Homo sapiens: one gene and its partners. The protein of the gene in region 2 interacts with the protein of the main gene of each other region in a pairwise test. Each region holds a gene or a part of one and is shown on either strand. Other genes may lie near its edges. The genes, in order: CASS4, MTMR2 and RSPH1.

What was found.
Region 1: the proteins of MTMR2 (region 2) and CASS4 interact in a two-hybrid assay, tested with the Homo sapiens proteins (one large-scale study listed by IntAct).
Region 3: the proteins of MTMR2 (region 2) and RSPH1 interact in a two-hybrid assay, tested with the Homo sapiens proteins (one large-scale study listed by BioGRID and IntAct).

The regions. Positions count from the first base shown.
Region 1 is NC_000020.11:56,415,124-56,418,776, forward strand, and holds part of CASS4 (cas scaffolding protein family member 4), read left to right. Parts: intron 1-3,653. UniProt on the Homo sapiens protein: Docking protein that plays a role in tyrosine kinase-based signaling related to cell adhesion and cell spreading. Regulates PTK2/FAK1 activity, focal adhesion integrity, and cell spreading.
Region 2 is NC_000011.10:95,861,577-95,865,229, reverse strand, and holds part of MTMR2 (phosphatidylinositol-3,5-bisphosphate 3-phosphatase MTMR2), read left to right. Parts: intron 1-2,863; coding exon 2,864-2,958; intron 2,959-3,127; coding exon 3,128-3,238; intron 3,239-3,653. UniProt on the Homo sapiens protein: Lipid phosphatase that specifically dephosphorylates the D-3 position of phosphatidylinositol 3-phosphate and phosphatidylinositol 3,5-bisphosphate, generating phosphatidylinositol and phosphatidylinositol 5-phosphate.
Region 3 is NC_000021.9:42,494,065-42,497,817, forward strand, and holds the start of RSPH1 (radial spoke head 1 homolog), read right to left. Parts: upstream 2,161-3,753; 5' UTR 2,123-2,160; coding exon 2,069-2,122; coding exon of another isoform or gene 2,056-2,068; intron 1-2,055.

The DNA of each region.
Region 1 (3,653 bases), on a different chromosome or scaffold from region 2:
TCCCTTGTACCAGGGGTTGGCAAACTCTTCATAAAGAGTCAGATAGTATTTTATGCTTTGCAGGCCAAATACAATCTCTGTTGCATATGGTTGTTTGTTTATGCAGTCCTTAAGATATGTACAGTCATTCTTCACTTATGGGTCATCCATCTAGATTTGGTCCACAGGCCCTTGTGTAGCAGCCTATGTCATCTCAGTTTACGTAGGCCACCCCCACCCACCCACGCAGTACCAGGAAACACCCAAGTTGTCGACACCTAGTTCAGAGGCATCCTCAGTTAACTGTTTCTTGGGTGTCCCTACAGAAACTATCAATGCATCTATAAGATACATGTTTTAAGGTTTTACACAAATAGGAGCTGTAAGTAAAGATCTGTTGAGCTTCTTGCCTTTAGCAACTACCAATACGTACTGGTGTTCAGTTCATATTAGTGCAGTTGATCCATCTCATTAATCTTAATGCCTACATTGTTGCTCAATTGCTTTATAAATGGTAGCACAATGCTTCAAGGGGTCATGTCATGTCAGTGGTCCTTAGCTTTGGGGCATTCGCCTTTAAAACAACCCTGCCTTTCATTCAGGGCCACCGCAGATAGCCTTTCAGACCCTGAAGTTCGCCTTTGTACATCGTATGGTAAACAGGGACTGTTCTCGCAAGCTGTTCCTAATTCTACCTGCTGGCCAGTAGCTCCGTTGCCAGTAGAGCTGCTTTCACCTTTGTGCATGGCAGATTTTGTGTAATATCCAGACTGATTTATTCTATTTTTTAAAAATTGTTTTATAGAACAAGGCGAAATTTTTTTAAAACACGTGATATTAGTGATAGGAAACACTGGCCTCAAAGGTGGTAAATTTAACACCTCATTCATTGGTTTGTGGAACTCTAGCCAACTAGTCAACTCCATTCAAGAAATACTAGAAATTTAGTTTTCGTGGGTTTTTTTGAGGTGGAGTTTCACTCTGTCGTCCAGGCTGGAGTGCAGTGGCATGATCTTGGCTCACTGCAACCTCCACCTCCCAGGTTAAAGCAATTCTCCTGCCTCAGCCTCCCAAGTAGCTGGGATTACAGGCATGTGCCACCATGCTCAGCTAATTTCTGTATTTTTAGTAGAGACGGGTTTTCACCATATTGGCCAGGCTGGTCTCGAACTCCTGACCTCAAGTTATCTGCCTGTCTCAGCCTCCCAAAGTGCTGGGATTACAGGCGTGAGCCACTGCGCCCAGCCAGAAATTTAGTTCTAAAAGAACTAAAATTGTCTAAAAGACAAGGAGGATAAGTGGGCTTATTATACGTAAGTTCTTATTTTGGATTTTTGGTAGTTTCAAGATGCCTTAGTTACGAAAATAGAGTCTGCAATGTACTTTAGTGATTCAGTCCTGTTTGCTATAAATTCTGTTTACTTCCGTGTGTGTGTGTGTGTGTGTGTGTGTGTGTATGCACACATGCCATTACAGGTAATATTGAAATTAGCATCTTCATACACAGCCCTTTTTTCCCCAATAACATGATTTTCTCACTGGAGTAAATGTCCAGGAATTGAAAGAGGATTTTACTGAATGAAATAAGCTTTGGCACTTATTTTCCATCATTTTCTGAGAATTTCTGATATTTGATTCTATTTTAAACCTACTTTCCCCAGTATTTTCTCTACAATCTGTACTTTCTTTTATAAAGACAGCTATGTGCTCATTCAGTTTTCTGAAGGCATTTTTCAAGCAAGCATCTTTACTATGTTACTGAAGAGTGGATGGTCCAATATTTATACTGTAAGAACATTTAAATGTGATTATCTTTCACATTTTAAATTCAGCCTCAATTAAAGAGCAAATCTTTTTTGTCTCTCTCCCATCTCAACTCTGAGTGGCATGGTTTTGGACCCACTCAAGAAGGATCAAGGTAAAAATGTAGAATTTTTTAAAAAATCTTCCACATCTCAAGGTTGGTTTAAACACGACAAAATGTGTTGGCTTGGAAGTGTGTACCACTTGCTGGGACTTGGCTTGCTTCAGTGCTTCTGGGCAAGAAAGCCTGGTGAGGCTTCGTTTGTGAGTGGAGAGCAGTTTTAGGTTCTCTTTGTACCTTTAGCAGCTCTGAGGTGGTGAGCAAGACATTTCAAACTCAGTCTTTGTTGAAGGGCAAATGGGATTGTGTGCAGAAAGCTGACCTGGCCCTTCAGGGCCCATTAGATCCCACTCCGAGCAGCTCTCCTGCCTCAGTTCCTTCCCCTTCTCCCCTGCTGTTCCCCGCCTTGGATTCTTCTCTCTCTAGCAAGCATCGCCTCACCCAGAGGCCTCTCTGGACCACGCTGTGCAAATCACTTCCCCCCTACACAGGCCCACCGCCAACACTCTCATCTATCTTACCTTCACTTATTAAGATCTGAAATTATCTCACTTTGTTTGTTCCTCTGTCTTCCTCTCTGGGAACGAAACTCCATGAGGGACAGACCTGGGCTTTCTTACTCAGTGCTGCATCTCCGGTGCCTACAACAGTGCCTGCACAAAGTAGTTGCTCAATACATGCTTTGTGGTAGTGTGTGAACGAATGGGAGCTTACAGGGAGTGCAGGTGGAGCCCTGGCTGCAGCCCCGCTGTGAGGATAGGAACAGCACTACTTTCTAGTCAGCAGGTGTTTGGCAACGGAGGTCATTCCTGACTCTCAGCTCTCTAACCCCTACCTGGCGTCAGCCTAAGCTGCCACTCAGCCTGTTCTCTTGACAATTGTCCCCCTCCTTGTCCATGGTCAGATGTTGCCTTAGATGCAAGCTGTTGCTATTGAAATCAAGGTCACAAAGACCTGTAGCCTCCCTCCAGCATTTCCCAGCAACTTCCTCCCTTCATCTATTCCACGAGGCAAAACAGCCCAGACACAACACCCAACTCGAAAACACAGCTCACCATCCATGCCTCAGCCATTCACCCAATGCATAGTTATTGGGCTCCGGGGGTTCAGGGTGATCAAGACAGAGCTGACATTCCAATGGAGTGAGCATGACAGTGAGTAAATAGACCCATGGTTTCAGGTGGTGAGAACTGCCAGAAAGAGGAGAAAACAGGGGGATCTGATGGAGGCGATGGATGGAAAAGGCCACTCTGAACACCCAAGAGATGGGAAAAGCTTTCCAGGAAGAGGGAACAGCAGATGCCAAGGGCCTGCAGTGGGAAGGTATTCAGCATAGTACAGGGCCCCTGTAAAGACCCATGGGGTCAAAGAAGAGTAAACCAAGAGAGAGAGGGGTCAGAAGTGAGATCTGAGGTGTAAGCAGGATAACATAGGGCCTGGTCGGCCGTGTAAGAGCTTTGAAGCCATTCTAATTGCAAAGGAAACCACCAGCCCACTTAAAGCAGGAGATGACATGATCTAATTTATGTTTTCTAGATCACTCAGGCTGCTGTGCAACAGATGGGCTGTAAGTAGGAAAGAGCAAAAGCTGGTAAACGTGGAGACTTCAGTGTAGGTGGCTTCATTTTCCACTGGGGTGGTACCCTGCTCTTCTCCATGGACACGAAGGAGAATCGTGTACTCTGTCTTTAAAAAAGTAGAACTTTTGATGTTTGAGACCGCTGGTCGCCGTGTCGGGTGGGGAGTGGTTGTGAGCAGAAAAAATAGTAAATCAAGGAGTAGATAGCTTCTATTTATGTGTGTTACGTTT
Region 2 (3,653 bases):
GTCACCTTATACAAGTAATTTTTCTTAAAATATCTTCTCTTCTGTTTGCTTCCTTCATGTCTTTCTTCTCTGAATAAAGTCAGGTTAATTTTTGGATGAAATACATCATCTCCATTGCATCTGTTTGTATGTAGATGCCCTTCTCTGCCCAGCCTAATACTTATAATATGGACTGGAAACTGAAAATGAGCTTACAAGCTGTGTTTTTTTTCCTCATGCTTTTGTTTTGTTTCATCTGTGTGATAATCTACAGATATCTACTCATAAACTCTGAGAAATAAAGTAATATGTTAGAAGAATGAAGTAAATGATTTCTTAGTTAATATAACTACCATGTTTCATTTTGTTACCAATCATAATTTTTAAAAAGGATTTTAAAAATGCTGAATTTTACTTGGCTAGGTGTCATTTCTATGTGTAAAAACAAGCCAAAGGCAGGACCTGTATTCTAAATGGATTATTATTTACTAAATTTAGCTTCCTAGTCCTTAGCATGCTATTTGTCTTTTCTTGCTCTTGGCTCTTGATTGAATAACCTCTCAGTCTTTTTCTTTTCCCCAGTTAGCCTTATATATACACCAAGCTCTTGATCTGAACTACCTACTTACATTTTTTCAGAATTGGCTATTATATAATGATAGTAGTTATTATTATTGAGTGCTTACTATCTCAGTCATTCTCAGAGAGTATATTCTTGAGAATAACATCAACCCCATTTTATAGGTGAGGAAGGAAACTAAGGCATAGGAAGATAACCTAGCTAATAAGGTTATATCTAGCATTGTGACAATTTCTTTTTCTTATTCTGAACTTAATGCCGTAATTGCAGCTCCCATTATGAAATATGGCTTTATTAAAGAACTTCAAGTTACCACTCAGTCTCATTTGTTGGCTCTTCTTCCTTTAATAGCAACACGCCCTAGGACTTCATCCTTGACCCATTTCCCTTTTCCCTCCTGTATACTCTTTTCGGTTGACCATATCTAAATTTGTAACATCACTTGCCATATATTGGCTGATGACTCCAAAATTTGTTATCTCCAGTGTGAACCCCTGTCCTAATGTAAGTAAACAAATGCCTCTATCTTAAACACACATCCTTGAATATCCCATAGGAACCTTATACCCAACATCTCCAAAATGGAAATCATCACGTTTAACTCCAAACTTACTCTTTTTCTTGCATTCTCTCTCTCAGTTGACATCAATACCAGCTGTCCATTTACTCAAGTCAGAAATCTGGTTGTCGTACTAGACTGCTCTTTTTTTCTTTTCTGGACTCTTAACATCCAGTCAGTGTCTAAGAATTTCTTGTATTTATCTTCTTTTCTCCATTGTCATGATCTCTTGAGGAATGATAGAGGGTACAGAACAAAGCAAAGACTAATGATGATAATAGTAACATAGGTATAAACCCTTGAATTTTTGTATTGTACTTAGAACTTTAGAAGCATCTTTATATGTATATTATCTCATGATTTTAGAATAAAGGGGAAGATGTAACAGAAAAGCACTGGCCTGAGAATGACATTCCTGTGGTGGGATATAGGATAATAAGGCTGAGTTTTCTTACATGAGTAAGAAAATTGACTGTGGAAGGAATCCAGAAATGTTTTAGTAACCTTGAATAAAGCTTTTCTAGTTGAGGTAAAAATTCATAAGGGAAAAATATTATTTGTGCAAAGCAAGTTTGTGTATTTTTGTATAATGATGGGTTCATTTAATTTTAAAAGCTTCCCTCTAAATGAAATATGCATTCGAAACGATTTAAAAAAGTAGTTTATACTTAAAATGTTCCTAAGGGAACTATTTTGAAGGTTAGAAATGATTGTGAAAAGATCAGTCTCATTTCAAATTCCATACAAAGCAGCCAGTCCTTCGAAGTGTTGAATGAGAAGCAAAGTCAGGAGGTTGTAATACCTTATTAAATATATTTCATGGCCCCAAGTTTTCCCAGAAGCCCGTTGAAAGGGTCTTAGAAAGTTGTTGCTCCACAGAATTGTCCCTTACTTCCTTGGAATGATGAAGATACTCCTTTATCTGCTGATTTGGTGTAATAATGACATACTAGGAATTTATGAATATTTTAAGATATAAAAACCATGTATTGGAAATTATGAACTGTGGCATTTTAAATAATATTTTGAGATACTGATTCCTAAGTTATCCTGCATAATCAGTTAATGCATATTTTACAAAACATAATGCCATGTAGATCCATTGTTTATTTGATAAAACATTACTTGTGATTATTTCTTTACAAAGTCTGGCATTGGTTGGTCAGCAGTACAATATCCTCTTCTTATACTGTTATTTTTCTAAGAAATTATATTTTAAATGTGTGTCATTTCACCTGTAAAATTTTCCCCATAAGTATTAATCAGATCAGGAGTTTGTGGAATAACATATGTTTTGGACATTGCATTTTTAGAAGAATGTTGACAAACTGGACAGGAAATTGGTGAGGTTACATAGAAACTGCAATGAGATGATGGCGACTGTGCCTTGACATGCTTATTGTTGATACCACCATTACCAGTATTCTTTCACCCGTCTCTGCTGCAGCTACCCACACCTGTTTTATCTAGCCAGGATAGTAGCCCCTTTGTTTACTTCCATTCTGTCTCATGGGATGAGAAGTCCCTCCACCTTTTCAGCCTATCCCATTTAATTCTGTGTTTCTTCCCCAGATTAGTGCAAGGATGGAAGCTTGGGTTGTAGGATTCTGAGGTCTCTGGAAATTACTGGTTCTGTTATTTTTCAGCATAAATTAGTCTAGGAATCATAACAATTTTATAAGATGAGATAGCAGGTTTTAATAGCACATAATGTATAGTAAACTGTGGACTTCTTGCTTTTTCAGCCAAAGATGTAACTTATATATGTCCATTCACTGGCGCTGTACGAGGAACTCTGACTGTCACGAATTATAGGTTATATTTCAAAAGCATGGAACGGGTAAGAGTCAGATTAGATTTTTGTATGTACATGAGTGTGTTGTTTGTAGCTAGTTTTGTTCATTTCTGATCATTTCTAATTAAAGCATTTCTGATTAAGATTTTGATCAGCTCTATAATTGGACAGTATTAATTGCTCAGTTTTAATTATTTTTTCTTTCCTTCTTTAGGATCCCCCATTTGTTTTAGATGCTTCCCTTGGTGTGATAAATAGAGTAGAAAAAATTGGTGGTGCTTCTAGTCGAGGTGAAAATTCTTATGGACTAGAAACTGTGTGTAAGGTAAATGTTATAATATGTATGTGATTTTCTTTGGTTTGAAAAGCTTTGTATTAAATAGAACCTCTGTTTTGAAATTGGTTTCTAAAATATAAAATGGATTTCCAATTAGAAATGTTATTTTAGTATGACATTGATAGAAGAAAACAAAATTTAGCAGTAATAGAAAAGGTGATTCATGAATTAGACTTAATTCTTTTGGGCCCAGTTCAGTCTACATATTTTGATATATTCACAAATTCATAACTTATTTTTTAATAATGATCATCTTGGCCGGACATGGTGGCTCACGCCTATAATCCCAACACTTTCAGAGACTGAGGCAGGTGGATCACATCAGGTCAAGAGTTCGAGATCAGTCTGGCCAACATGATGAAAACGCATCTCTACTAAAAATACAAAAATTAACCAGGCGTGG
Region 3 (3,753 bases), on a different chromosome or scaffold from region 2:
AGTAAATAAATAAAAAATGTGATCAAAGCTTGCAATTTTCCTATCCTTCAGAAAATAAATGTTCCTTAGCACCTAATACATGGGTATAGAGTGAATATAGTAAATAATAAAATGCTGAAAGCATCCAGTAATGATTTAACATGGGTATCTCATAACATCACACTGTATTTCTTAAATATACATAATAAAATTTATTAAAAATTAAAATTAAGAAATTGAATTGGATGTATATAGACTTATTATAACACAAGTACTGACACACTACATTGAGGACTTCAGAAATAAACGTCTGTGCAATTCTTGCCCTTTTCTAGCACTGTTTGGACCACTAATTCCTGCCTAGAATATAAGGTAAAAATCTGCGACCTCACAGATTTGTTTCAGGGTTAGTTTACATCAAAATGTACAAAAGTCCCCTCCTTCTATCCAAGAGGCTTCCCAATACACCCAACACTGAGCCGCTGGGGTGGCTGAATAAGACAGAAATCCTTTAAAATGACCCCAAATGTGATCTGAACCTAAAAATTATAGGCACTAAAAAGTTACAAATCAGTGGGGCCATTTGAGGAGACAAACTAGAAATCTTGCTGGTCAAGTGTTGCAGGTTGGGTTCACCTAGAAACAGACCCTGAACAAGTGATTTTTTTTTTTTTTTGAGACAGAGTCGCTCTGTTGCCCAGGCTGGAGTGCAGTGGCGTGATCTCGGCTCACTGCAACCTCTGCCTCCCGGGTTCAAGCCATTCTCCTGCCTCAGCCTCCCGAGTAGCTGGGATTACAGGTGCCCGCCACCATGCCCGGCTAATTTTTTGTATTTTAGTAGAGACAGGGTTTCACCGTGTTGCCCAGGCTGGTCTCAAACTCCTGAGCTCAGGCAATCTGCCCACCTCGGCCTCCCAAAGTGCTGGGATTACAGGTGTGAGCCACCGCGCCTGGCCTGATTTTTTTAAGTGCTCTCCTGGGAGAAAGTAGTAAAGAGGGCAGGGAAGTAGACATGAAAGGGCAGGCAGCTAAGGAAGGATGCCTTTGCAGGTGAAGTCCCAGACTTGGCCTAATCCAACAGGGACTCTGGGGGCATCAATCGCACTGCAGACTTTGTCCTGCTTCTTGCACTAGCTACTGGCTGTCTGGCCGGATGTGAATTTCAGGCACTTCTGGCTCTCCATACTGGGCAGGTAGTTCCAGCGCACAGAGGTGATAGCTTGAGTAGCAAATCAGGCGGAAGCTGGGAGATGAGTGCCCAGAGCTAGCAAAAAGGTCTGGGCAGGCACTGACAGCACCACTGCAGAGTCGCTAGATTTTTCAGTTAATTCTGAAAGTACCTCAACTCTGTACTGTGCATGCAGACCATAGTGGCTGAGGTTCCCTATCTGTCAGCCATGGAGAGGTCACTCTCTGGAGTAGGGAGGAACTACTCTCTGGGTGATAGAAATATTCCCACACAGAACCCAGCTCACAGGCTGGATGTGCCCTCTTTCTCCTCTCTGCTGCCTAACTCAGGAAATAACTCCAAAGACCTGGGTCAGTTCAGATGGGGACTGAAGAAAGCACATGTGAGGATACGCCTATAAGGTAATATCTTCAGGAACCCTCTCCTGAGCCCAGGGCCTCCTCAGCATTTCTTGGAGGCTGCCAGGAAGCAACTATCCTCCATGCATCTAAATGCCGGGGGAGCAAATCTCAGCTACAGAAATGACTTATTCAAGGGCAGTATGGCAGCGTGGGATGATCTGCTCATCCGAGAAAACTGCCTCGATGGGAATTAACACAGGGAGGAGGAAACTTCCAAAGCCTTCCGCTGGGAAATCTTTGCCTTTAATGGGAGGCAGGATGGGGGTGGGGGAAGAACGAGGCGGCATGTGGTAACCAGACGTCACAGCGTTTCACTTTTCACCATCAACTTCCAGGACGCACGCAGGTGTGTCTGGCGTGGCCTTCGTCCCTGCCGGGGATCCTGGGGAGCTGTGGCTCAGACCTCTGGTTTCTGCGCCTCCTCACTCTCCAAACCCAACCTCGAGGTTCCCCCGCCGCTGCGCACCCTGGGAAGCCCTTTCTCACCAGGAGCTCTCACCCCAATATCATTCTCTCCCTCCTCCTCCAACTCCTCCGAGCCCAGGTCCGACATGGTCTCGCCCCAGCCTGGATCACAGCCGCAGCGCCTCTAGCAGGTGGGTAGCAACCGCCTCCACCGCCGCGTCCCGCGTCGCCATGGAGACGCGGCCGGTCCCGCCTCCCTCCCAGCCCGGAAGATGGGGAGCGGGGACAGGCGACGCGGACGAAGCGGGAGGAGCCACTGGCAGCCTTTGCGTACTGTCATAGCAACGGGAAGGGCACCTCGACCAATCACCGCCCGGGAATACGGAGGGGCGGGGCGGAAGGGACGAGGTGGAGCCAGTGGCAGCACTCTGGTGCCGTCATAGCAACGAGGGGCCGCTTCGGCCAATCACTGCTCGGGAAGCGAGGGGGCGGGGACTGGGCAGGGCCTGAGCGGGTTCTGTGCCTGGCTGCCCACCGGCTCTCTGACCTGGACCTCGCCGTCGCTGGCCCCTGAAATCCATCACTTTTGTCGGCTGTTCTGTGACGCCACAACGAGGAGCCACCTGGGTACTGGGCCCTCAAGAGGAAGGACGCGGGAAACGCGTCCGGGCCAACTCTCGAGAGGGTTTCACCCCTGCCCAGTGCGGGCACTGCCCGCTCCCTTCCGCCCCCAGGCCTCGCAGGCCCCTCCGGGGATGCTGCCCACCCCCACTTACCTTTCTAGGCTCTGCTGACCCTTCGGGATTCGCGGCTAGCTGTGATGTGTCCGCCAAGATCTCTTCTCTTGTCTGTAAACAACTTCACTCTCAAGGAGGCAGCTCTGGCCTCTCAGCAGGTGCGGCCTACAGTGATGTCCGTCCGGGTTTTACATCCTTCCCCGACCTCGACATGAGTCCCAGCCCCCTCGGGCCTCTGACTCTCAGGTGTCCCCTACGATCGCCGTCCTCTCCTCTCGCTCCTGGCTCCCCTACACTGTCACACACCCACACAATCACAGACGCACACGCATGTACACGTGCAGGCTTGGAAATCTGCTTTACCTGACGCACTCCGCCTGCCGAAGGCCCCTCACATCTCCCATTTCCTCTGCCATCATCCCAGACTGCAAAGCTGTGTTATTTGTTGTTGCTGCAGGAGCTGGGGAGGAGTGACTGAATAACTATAGGATTTGGTCTTGATGGGAGAATCCCAGAAGCCAAATCCACGCGGTGAATAAGCTGCTGATCTTCCAGAGCACACATCCCCTAGAGATTCTTCCCAATGCTAATATGAAAGGTTACAACCATAACCCATCATCAGGCCCAAATATATTACTTACTGAATAAATACACAAGTTACAACAACACACGAGATTCCAAAATTATGTCGTTTTTTAGATGCAAAGATAAAAATGTTGTAAACACCAAAATTTAACAGCTTTTCTTATGGGGAAAAGTGGGGAGTTAGGGATAACAGATGATTATTATTTTCTTCTCTACATATTGGCAGTTACCCAGTTACTACAATTAAGCATGTCCTATTTTTATAATAAAATGCCAGAAGCATTTTAAATGTTAGAAATCTAGAATGGTAACATAAGTATATGCAAATAAATACTCGTTTTTTACATTTAAAATGTCAGAAATTTAGCTTTCAAATTTGTCCTAACAATGACAGTAACCAGTGTTTACTAAGTTCTGACACTGTGTGTGGGCACTGTTTTAAGAATTTTATGAGTTA